Regions from separate parts of the Homo sapiens genome. Here region 2 is reported to be linked to region 1. Evidence: microRNA targets listed by miRTarBase, many of them from high-throughput screens and not tested one by one. Region 1 holds a microRNA gene; the other region holds the end of a gene's coding sequence. Distances are from middle to middle.

Region 1 (5,528 bases):
CCCTCTGTAATAAAAGAGATTTGACACTAGTCTCCAGGCCCATGTGACTTTTGGCCTGATGTGGGACCAGACTGGGGTCCCTGGGAGGATGGGCATCACTAAGGCAAGAGGCACTTGGTACTAAGCTAAGGGTGGGGGTTTGGGGCAGGGGTGAACAAGCAAAGTCCACCTGGGATTTTCAGGAGCTGGGAGCTTCAGGTGAGCTGTGGGCCCTTCTCCATCACCTCTCCCAAGATACTGGACTGCCCAAACACCCTGGTAGGATCTTGAGAGTCCAGGCCTCATCTGCCAGGCTGTAGTGTCCAACACTGTTTGGTCCAGTGATGGTTTAATGACAACACTCAAGGACAGTCCAGACCAACCAATAGAGGCAAGGGGGTGGCCTTGGGATTCACACAGGCTCGACTGTAGAGTAACTAAATCATAACACAGAGATGAATGATAATGTTAAGTGGACTCAGCAAAGGGAGACAGGGAAAAAAACCACATCTGGAAGGTCTCAGTTCACTGTGGGACCTTCTGAAGATGAGAAACAGCTACAGCACCAAAATTTAGGAAGCATTCAGTAGAGTGGCTGTGCTACACCTGGGGCTAACCCTGCCTACACAGGGATGTAGGTCACACCTACCCAGTATCCCACAGGGTACCCAACAAGCCTCTAGTGTGTACATCCTTTGCCCTGGGTGACCCTCCCCATACCCAGAAAGGGCAAGGAGGCAGTCTTCCCCACTCCCTAGGCATCCATACACATGGGCTTCGATAGGTGGGGGACAAGACCCCCCTCCCTTGTGCCACCAGTGCTTGATAAGGCTGACTAGTAGATACAGTCAATAAACCAGGCCCCAGGACCACAGTCCCCCAACCAGCCAACGCCTGAGGAACTGGTGAAGTTTTTATTAAATCCACAGAAGTAAAAACCATATCGTGAGGAACTGGGGGATGGGGCCACCAGGGAGTGGGAGTCAGGCCACCAGGGGAGTGGGGATGGGGTGACAGGACAGAGAACAGAGCCAGGCTGGGCTGGCCATGGGGGCTCCAGCCTCAGGGGCCATCACCAGGGCCACCAGACAGCTCCTGGGAACTCAGGCCAGCACCAGGCAGGCTCATCGGCGGGGGCTCCACCAGCACAGCAGAGAACTTGGTGTCACCGAAGGCCTCGTTCATGCGCGTCTCGAAGAAGCGCTGCAGGCCGATGATGGACTGCACGTCTGCCTTGTCCTGGGCCAAGCAGGAATGCAGTGGATGAATGGGTCCTAGTTCTTTCCTTCACATCTCCCCCTGCCCACAGCCTCTCCATTCCACTGGCTCACCTCAGTTAACTTGTTGAATTGCTTGAACATGCGGCCCACATCCTGGGCAAACTCCTGTGGGGAGCTGTAGGGAGGTGACAACTTCTCCTGGAGGCGGGCACGGATCAGGGTCAGATCCAGGGTGCCACCGGGCTGGTCCTGCAGGCAGAGATCACACATACACACACAAAGACACACATATACATGCACAGGTTGAGGGCGAGACCCAGCAGCCACCACCCCCTTCCCCTTTCCCATCCTAGGACTCACCAGGGAGAAGGTGGAGTCGGTAGCCAGCTGATGCAGGGGGCGGCAGGGTTCGTGACAGAATAGGGCCAGCAGTACACGCTCACATTTCTACAAACATTGTAAGGGATGTCACAGCTCTGGGCAGCACCTATAAAGCCTCTCTGGGCAACCCCACCTAAGTAACCCCAGCCCTCACCCGCTGGTTGGCTGGTGAGAGCTTGGCCACCACGCCAGTGCTGTCTGCACCATCCAGGCTGAGGCTGCCATCCTCCTCCTTCAGGTCAGGGAGCACATGGCAGAGTGAGCAGCTCCACTCCTCCCTAGGGTGAAGAAAATAAGGGTCTGCACATGATCCTGTCCAGACAGCCCAACACCCAGACTTGACCCCCACCAGCCTCACACTCACCCTGGTACATCCTGCAGGGCCGGCAGGTGACAGTCCAGGTGGAAACAAAACTCACACTGGTTGCACATAACCAGATCGCCTGGCTTCTGGCAGACACGGCAAATGGTGGCACTGTCATCCAGGGTTCCCGGGCCACCACCTGGGGCTGAGGTACCCTCAGGAGCCACCACCTCCAGCCCTGAGCTGGTGCTGCCACTAGGTGAGGCCAGGCGGGGACCCTCAGCACCAGGACCCTCCGCAAGAGCCATAAGCACAGGTTTGGTCTCAGGGCCCTCAGTGGCAGTAGGAGGGGCTCCAATGGCAGCCTCCGTCTCCTCCTCCTGCAAGGTGGTGATGAGGGGTGTTCAACAGGGTCCAGACCTGGACTACAGGCTTCATCCTACAGCTATAGTTCCTTGGGACAGGCTTACCTTGACAATGGCCATGCCAGCCAGGGGTGGGGCACCAGGGGTTCCTGCAGGCGCAGTCCCTGGCTGGCCGGTAGCTGCAGCGGCAGCGCCACGTTCAATAACAATAAGGTTGTAGTCCTCAGTGGTACTGCCTGGGAAGACCTTGAAGACGGGTGGCTGGCTGTCAGCTGTGAGGTCCAGGTCCAGGCGTTCAAGGCTCACTCGTGGCACCTTGCGCATAAGGCCGCTCACCTCGCCCTCACCTGAGCGGGACCTGTAGATGCAGCAACCTGGCATGAGTACACCCCCACCCTCCATCCACCTCACCCCCAGGGGAGGTGCCATACTTACCGTTTCACACCTGACACATGGGGCTCTGCACTTGAGTAGGGATCATCTCCTTAGAAAATGGAGAAAGAAGACTGGCAGGTTGGGGTAGAAACAGCACTGGGGCCCTTCCCCACCCACTAGGCAGACCCACTCACCTGACCCAAAGCCATAGCCTTCCTGCACCTCCATGGGCTGTGAACAAAGCAGAACCCTCTGCCTCAGTGGGACAGGAACCCTACTGGACCCCATTCCCTGCCCACCCCCCCTGCCTGGGTCCTCTCTCCTGCTACTGGACCCCATTCCCTGCCCACCCCTTCCTGGGTCCTCTCTCCTGCTCACCTGGCTGCTGCCAGAGCCCTGCTTGCTCAGGGGCCCTGGGGCTCTTGGAGGGGCCATGGGTGCAGGGCCTGTTGAGTTAGTGCCAGGACGCTCTGCCACAATCTTGCCTGCAAAAAGAAGAGAGAAACGTAAGTAGGTGCAGCACGTGGGGTAATAACAGAGTGAGGTAAAGCTGGGGACCCACCAAAGGCCTCGGCACTCTTGGTCCAGGCATTGAGGTCCCACTGAAACTTCATCTCGCCATGTGGCTCCACGGGATCCACAATCATCTTGAGGGCCCGGTGCAGCTGGAAGTAGATCTGGTTGGGAGTGAAAGGGAGGAAAGAATGAGCACACCAACAACAAATAGGGATTTGAGGTATTGGGAACCACCTGCCTGGAACCCACCAGCCAGGAGCCCACCAGTACACACCAACTTCTTAGAAAGCAAAAGGGCTGTGTTGTTGTCACTCTCCAGAGCCCAAGAGGCAAAGCGCAGAATGTGCTCCTGGTGCTTCTGGATCTTGGTCATGGTCCAGTGCTGCCGCTCCAGGCGCTCCTGCTGCCCCTCAGTCACCTTCTGCAGATAGAAGGTGTATGAGGTAAGCAGAGAAGGCAGAAGAATACTAGGATCACTCCTCACCCCAGACAGCATCATCAATCAGCAGAGGGGGCTCAGGGACCCTTCTCACCGGCACAAGGCTTACCTGGGCATCATTGACCAGCACACGGCCCCGCTTATTCAGCTCCTTCATGATCTGCAGGATGGCCATCTTGACATCCACTTGCACACGCTTCTGTACGTCAGACACCTGGCGGATTCTAGGGGACACAGCAGGTCAGGCTAGGTAGGGTCTTGCTGCCCTGGGCCACCCCCACAGCCCCAGAACCCACACTTACGAGCTGCGAACCTCCTTGGTGCTCTTCTGCAATGTTGCATGTTTGTCCCCAAGGCGCTTCACCAGTGAGGCCAGGAGCTTGCGCTGGTTCCTCACTGCATCCTCTAAGAACTGGTACCTGAGAGCAGACAGATGTGTTCCTGAGCACTAAGCTACGGAAGGGGTGGCACCCACCCACCCAACCACTATGCCTTGGGACTCACTGGTGGTCCTTGTGGGCATTGAGCTGGCAGTCTCGGCAGGTGAGAGTATCACAGCTCTCACAAAACAGCACAAGGGGTTCATGCTTGTGTACGTTGCAATAGACAGTACGTTCACCATCCCGAGACTTGGCTGGCCCTGGGGAGTGGGAATCATAAGGCTGGACCTTGCCCTTCACCACCCCCAACTCAGGAAGCAGAATGAGTTGGGGCCTCATTTCCGGCCTGTTCTGTGACACTGGGCCATTTATTGGGAAGATGTAGAGGGTGTGGCCAGGGAAGAACACAGGCCTGCAAGCCCAACTCCTTGCTCCCAGAATCCTCTGCCCCAACATAGCTGAGAAACACATCCCTTTCTTCTAGCTTCTAGAGATAACAACAATGTAAGGGTAAGGATAACAGCGTCTAGAAAAAGAGGACCACCCCACCCCACCCCCCACCCCCGCTGACCCTTCCCCACACTGTTCCCTTTACTGAACACTTCTCCAAGTGGACATACTCAGAATTCTGCCTACACACCACCCTGGATTCCTTTTCTTCTCCTTTCATGGTTAACTTCCTCCCTCTTCCCTGACAAGAGAACACCAGGGTCTCTTACAATCCAAGGGCCCAGAGGAAACCTTGTAGAGGTTCTCATACTGGGAGAGATGAAATGTCAAACCAGGACCCTCAGAATGGTGGTCACACCCCCTCTAGAGCAGAATCTTGGTGCTCAGCATAATCCCACCCAAAGACCAACCCATTAATAACCTCCAAAGCCTGTCTCCCCATTAGAAAACTGATCAAACACACTGGTCCCACATACCAACCAAATCCAAAATATGTAGCATCAGGGCTCATTGGGGAAACTGACTTCCCCAATGCCACTCATTCCTGCACCCTGACCTTTGCCTGGGACGTCTGGAATGTAGGACACCCTGCAGCCCCTGCGTATCCCTCCTGGCTGCTCAGGCCCCACAGCCACCACCTTCCCGCTATCTTCCACCAATGCTGTCCTCTGGGATGGGAAGAATCACAGTATGGCTACCAAAAGGCCACTCATGGGAGGATTCTGGCCCCAAAACTTGGCTAGACTCAAAAGACTCTCAAGCTCCTTCCAAACCAAAGCTAGCTGTGTCTGTGAAAAGCTGGAAATGCCAAACCAAACTTTGGGTAAGTCTCTGCCAACTCAAAAGCTAAAACACTTCCAAAAATCATCATCACTTATAATCCATGGACCCACAGTCTACTTTCCCTAGCAGCATCTTATACCAGATGTGTGCCAGGGAACCACAAACCCAGAAAGCCCTTCACACCATGCCTTTCCCTGTTTGCATATGCTGAGCCCTTCACCACCAGGTCTGACAACTCCCTGATAAGCCTTCTCAAACCCTTTGTACCTCCCTGCAGCACATTAAGGTCTCCCTTATTTCCCCTTCCCACCCTCTCCCACCTAGGCCCTAGAGACT
Region 2 (5,264 bases), 37 Mb from region 1:
TCCAAATGTTTTTCAGAGAAAATGACCCAAGAGTTGGCTACAGTTTGGTGACTAAAAATAAAAACTGTAGACTAAACCTCTCCCACTAAAAAATATATAAAAAATGAGTGAAAAATTTCTCCAAATTGTAAAATCAATATAGAAAAGACATTATTTTTCAAAATTTTAAATCCACTGAAGTCATTTCATTATTTTGTAACCTTTAACACTCACACTTAAAAATAAAAGATTCTGCATGGAAATATAAGTTGTGCTGTAAGTATATCATAGAAAATTAACTTTAAAATTGTTTACTTACCATTAACTCTCTTAAAAATTTAATTTCTGTATTTTCAAGCAAGTTTTATATTTGCCACACTTTGTATAAGAATCTAGTAAGATTTTTCTTTTAAAAACAAAGCTGACTAATTTAATTATCTTACCTGTGGACAGTATTGCACCTTTTATCTTTTTTTTTTTTTTTTAGACAGAATTTCGCTCTTGTTGCCCAGGCTGAAGTGCAGTGGCCCAGTCTCGGCTCACCGCAACCTCTACCTCCCAGGTTCAAGCGATTCTGCTCCCTCGGCCTTCCGAGTAGCTGGGATTACAGGCGTGCGTCACCACGCGTGGCTAAATTTGTATTTTTAGTAGACACAGGGTTTCACCATGTTGGTCAGGCTGGTCTCAAACTCCTGACCTCAAGTGATCCACCCTCCTTGGCCTATCTCAGTGCTGGGATTACAGGCGTGAGCCACACCTGGCTGCCTTTTAACTGTTCTGATAAGCAAACTCTACAGTTAAAACCAATTTTTGTGTGCACTAAAAATACCAACTTCCTCATCAAAATCTACAAAGTACCATGTGAAATGAAATGGCATGAAGACAACAGTAAGAAAACTGTAGCTATAACTCAGAAAAAGAATAGCTGTGATGCATACATAGTTGGAAAATGCATAAGACAAATCTGAAGAGAAGTAGAAAATAAAAGAATTTCTCTTTTTTTTCAGATGGAGTTTCCCTCTTGTCGCCCAGACTGGAGTGCAATGGTGCAATCTCGCCACACTGCAACCTCCACCTGTCGTGTTCAAGCGATTCTCCTGCCTCAGTCTCCCGAGTAGCTGGGATTACAGGCATGCGCCACCACACCGGGCTAATTTTGTATTTTTTAGTAGAGATGGAGTTTCTCCATGTTGGTCACCTGGTCTCAAACTCCCGACCTCAAGTGATTCGCCCACCTTGGCCTCCCAAAGTGCTGGGATTACAGGCGTGAGCCACCACGCCCAGCTCTTTTTTTTTTTTTTTTTTTTTTATATGGAGTCTCGCTCTGTCGCCCAGGCTGTAGTGCAACGGCACAATCTTGGCTTACTCCAATCTTCACCTCCGGGTTCAAGCAATTCTCCTGACTCAGCCTCCCGAGTGGGATTACAGGCACCCACCACCATGCCTGGCTATTTTTGTAGTTTTAGTAGAGACTGGGTTTCACCATATTCATCAGGCTGGTCTCAAACTCCTGACCTCAGGTGATTCATCTGCCTCTGCCAGAATTTCTCTTTAAATTCAACAAGATTCAGTTTTACAGTCTGGAAAAAAAATGTCCTCTCTATATGAACAATCAATCTTCACCATTGATATTTTTCATCTTTGACTTGAAGTTACAAACTAACTTCAGCAGGAATATTTATGAATTATTATGGATAATCTATTACACAGTGAAAACTGTAATATATGTTTGCTACATTTATATATAAAAACATCCTCATGACTAATGAAGCCTCCCTAGTACTTAGCTGAACAAATTGACTCAATAAATATGCTTATGTCAATTATAAAAAGTGAAAGGAACAAATCACTAAAGAAAACCTATATATTGTTCTCCTCTTAAAAGAACAAAATGGAGTGCTCTAACTAAATAAAATGTAACTTAATACACTACTTTTGGAATTACATCTAAAGATTATTTTGTGTGCACTAAATTTCATAAAAATTCTTATAATCGCAGACCAGCTCACATAATGAATACTTCATAAAATATAAAACAAAAAAAATGTAAGAAACAAAAAAAGTATGGGTCTAGCATGAGTACCAGGCAAGTATATACAGAGAATTTGCTTGGGAAGATTCAGAACTCTAAGTCATAGACTGTACAGTAATAAATTCAATACAAACCAAAAAGTATACATTTGCTTTCAGCATTTTTTAGGTTTTTAGTTTTATAGTAGTCACCATATTAAAATGATTTTTGTTCCCGTATCATTCTTTCCTTCTGAAAATATGTACAAACTCATACTCACACACACATACTTAACTCCATAATTTTCTTACACCTAAGATTTGTCTTTAGACTAACATGTATTTAACTCTATATGAATCAAAACTAAAAGTCTGTATATGTTTGCAGGCAGACAGGCCACATGTTCAAAGAAAAATATATAGAAAATTTGAAAATATATTTTACTTTTTGAGATGGAGTCTCGCTCTGTTGCCCAGGCTGGAGTGCAGTGGGGTGATCTTGGCTCATTGCAACCTCCACCTCCCAGGTTCAAGCGATTCTCCTGCCTCAGCCTCCTGAGTAGCTGGGATTACAGGCACATGCCACCACGCCTGGCTAATTTTTGTATTTTTAGTAGAGACGGGATTTCTCCATATTGGCCATGCTGGTCTCGAACTGCTGACCTCAAGATCCACTCCCTCGCTCAGCCTGTCAAAGTGCTGGGATTACAGACGTGAGCCACCACACCTGGCATGAGAAAATATTTATTAAGAATTTAGAAATGAATTTCATTTATACTCGTATATAATTTTTATTATGACGATAAAAATAACACTGTGGTAAATAAAAATTTAATTGTACATTTAAAAATTTTTTTTTAAAGTGTAGAATTGGATTGTTTGTAAAACAAAGGAGAAATGCTACAGATGATGGATGCCTTACTTAACCCTGCTACTATTATATATTGTATTCTCCTATTAAAATATGCTACAGGCTGGGCGTGGTGGCTCAAGCCTGTAATCCCAGCACTTTGGGAGGCTGAGGCGGGCGGATCACATGAGGTCAGGAGTTCAAGACCAGCTTGGCCAATATGGTGAAACCCCATCTCTACTAGAAATACACAAATTAGCTGGGCATGGTGGCTGGCACCTGTTATCCCAGCTACTTGGGATGCTGAGGCAGAAGAGTTGCTTGAAACCAGAAGGCAGAGGTTGTAGTGAGCTGAGATCATGCCAATGCACTCCAGCCTGGGCGAAAGAGTGAAACTCAGTCTCAAAAAACAAACGAACAAACAAACAAAAGAATCTCTCTCTTTGATGTAGCAACAATTAACCCCATGCTTTCACATGTGAATCCAATAGGAATGAAGAAACAACAGGAAATAATTTCAGAGTTGAATGATGACATTATTCAATTTTCAAAAAATCTGTAATATTTTTCAAGAAATAAAGTATACTTTGAATGTAATTATAACTCTGCAAAAAACCTTCTGATCCTCTTAAAGTTCTATACAAATAACTTTTCTACCAACTTTAGTTTCAGATTTTCTATACTTAGCACTCTGATTTAGTATATCTGAAGTGTCAGTACCTTATATATTTCTACCATAAATTCTCTGATATTTGCATAGACTTAATTATGGATTAAATATTTTACTTTTACTGCATCTGGAAAAAATATATTCTAGTATAACTGTTGATTTCTAAGCTGTAGTTTTTGAAAAATTGTTTTTCCAAATTTATTATATTTGCACAATTTTTCAATATAAATTCCCTGATGTTGAACAAAGTTTGATCAACTGCTTCAGAGTTTTCCTCTAGAAGAAAATGTCTACAAAAAGATCTGTGATACAAGTAAAGGCACTACAACCCTTTTTATATTTGTGATGTTCAACTTCAAAATAAATACTCTTCACTAAAAAAGCTTATATTTTCTGAAAGATCTTTTGACAGTAATTGCACTTATAATGCTTTTATTAAGCAGGAACTCTCTGTGTTGAGTAAAATGTGAGCAGATAATGATGGCTTTTTCACAGTCTTTATATTTGTATAATTTATCTCAAGTATAAATGCTTTCCTAGCAATAAAGTGTGAGCATTAAGTTTTGCCATATTGTTCACACATGTAGGCGTTTTCTCCAGTATGAATTATCTTACCTACAATGAAGTGTGACAACCATTTAAAGGCTTTATCTCACTCTTCAGATTTCTAGGATTTCTCACCAGTATAATTACTTTTATGGTTAGAAAAGTTTGAGGCGTTGTCAAAAGTAGTCACATCTTTCTGATTTGTAGAGTTTCTCTCCAGTATAAATTATCTTATGTCTGTTAAGAATTGAGGGCTTCTTAAAGGCTTTGCCATGTTTTTCACACTTGTGGGGTTTTTGTACAGTATAAATTTTTTTTGAGACGGAGTCTCACTCTGTTGCCAAACTGGAGTGCAGTGGTACAATCTTGGCTCACTGCAACTTCCACCTCCCAGGTTCAAGTGATTATCCTGCCTAAGCCTCCCGAGTAGATGGGAATACAGGCACGTGCCACCACACCCAGATAATTTTTGTATTTTTAGTAGAGACAGGGTTTCACCATGTTGGCCAGGATGGTCTCGATCTCTTGACCTTGTGATCCACCCACCTCAGCCTCCCAAAATGCTGGGAGCCATTTTGCATAAGCCACCGCACCCGGCCAATATTTAATGCTTAGTAAGAGTTGAGGACTGCTTAAAGGCTTTCCCACATTCTTGACATTTGTAGAGTTTCTCTCCAGTATGAATTATTTTGTTTAATAAGGTTTGAGGACTGGTTAAATGTATTGTCACATTCTTCACAGTTGTAGGGTTTCTGTCTAGTATGAATTTTCCTATGTTTAGTAAGAGTTGAGGATTGGTTAAAGGCTTTACCACATTCTTCACATTTGTAAGATTTCTCTCCTGTATGAATTATCTTATGTTTAGTAAGATTTGAGGATCGGTTAAAAGCTTTGCCACATTCTTCACATTTGTAGGGTTTCTCTCCAGTGTGAATTCTCTTATGTGTAGTAAGGATTGATGACTGGCTAAAAGCTTTGCCACATTCTTCACATTTGTAAGGTTTCTCTCCAGTATGAATTATCTTATGTGCAGTAAGTTGTGGGGACCGGTTAAAAGCTTTGCCACATTCTTCACATTTGTAGGGTTTCTCTCCAGTATGAATCATCTTATGTGTAGTAAGGTTTGAGGACTCATTAAAGGCTTTGCCACACACTTCACATTTGTAGGGTTTCTCTCCAGTATGAATTCTTTTATGTTTAGTAAGGGTT

The links. Region 1 holds the annotated microRNA hsa-miR-6807-5p (GUGAGCCAGUGGAAUGGAGAGG, at 1,289-1,310, opposite strand). A microRNA usually pairs through its seed, bases 2 to 8, with sites in the 3' UTR of a target mRNA and lowers its output. Matches are read on the target gene's strand: a 7mer-m8 pairs with bases 2 to 8, a 7mer-A1 pairs with bases 2 to 7 and ends in A, and an 8mer does both.
Region 2: miRTarBase lists ZNF431 as a target of hsa-miR-6807-5p. Seed matches in the 3' UTR shown: 7mer-m8 at 2,704-2,710, 7mer-m8 at 1,247-1,253 and 7mer-m8 at 727-733.

What each region holds. Positions count from the first base shown.
Region 1 is chr19:58,546,067-58,551,594 of GRCh38, reverse strand. MIR6807 (microRNA 6807) reads right to left here and starts at 1,310; the gene lies at 1,219-1,310. It overlaps TRIM28 (tripartite motif containing 28), which reads right to left. Exons shown (of 17, transcript NM_005762.3): 4 at 4,084-4,219; 5 at 3,882-3,998; 6 at 3,689-3,803; 7 at 3,415-3,561; 8 at 3,187-3,301; 9 at 3,003-3,109; 10 at 2,819-2,855; 11 at 2,685-2,733; 12 at 2,355-2,607; 13 at 1,945-2,264; 14 at 1,735-1,858; 15 at 1,560-1,646; 16 at 1,311-1,448; 17 at 880-1,218. The coding sequence ends at 1,042. It overlaps CHMP2A (charged multivesicular body protein 2A), which reads left to right. Exons shown (of 6, transcript NM_014453.4): 6 at 1-29.
Region 2 is chr19:21,183,458-21,188,721 of GRCh38, reverse strand. ZNF431 (zinc finger protein 431) reads right to left here. Exons shown (of 5, transcript NM_133473.4): 5 at 1-5,264. The coding sequence ends at 4,688. It also overlaps the pseudogene VN1R82P. Among named protein-coding and RNA genes, the nearest start is that of ZNF431, 44 kb to the right of the region's middle.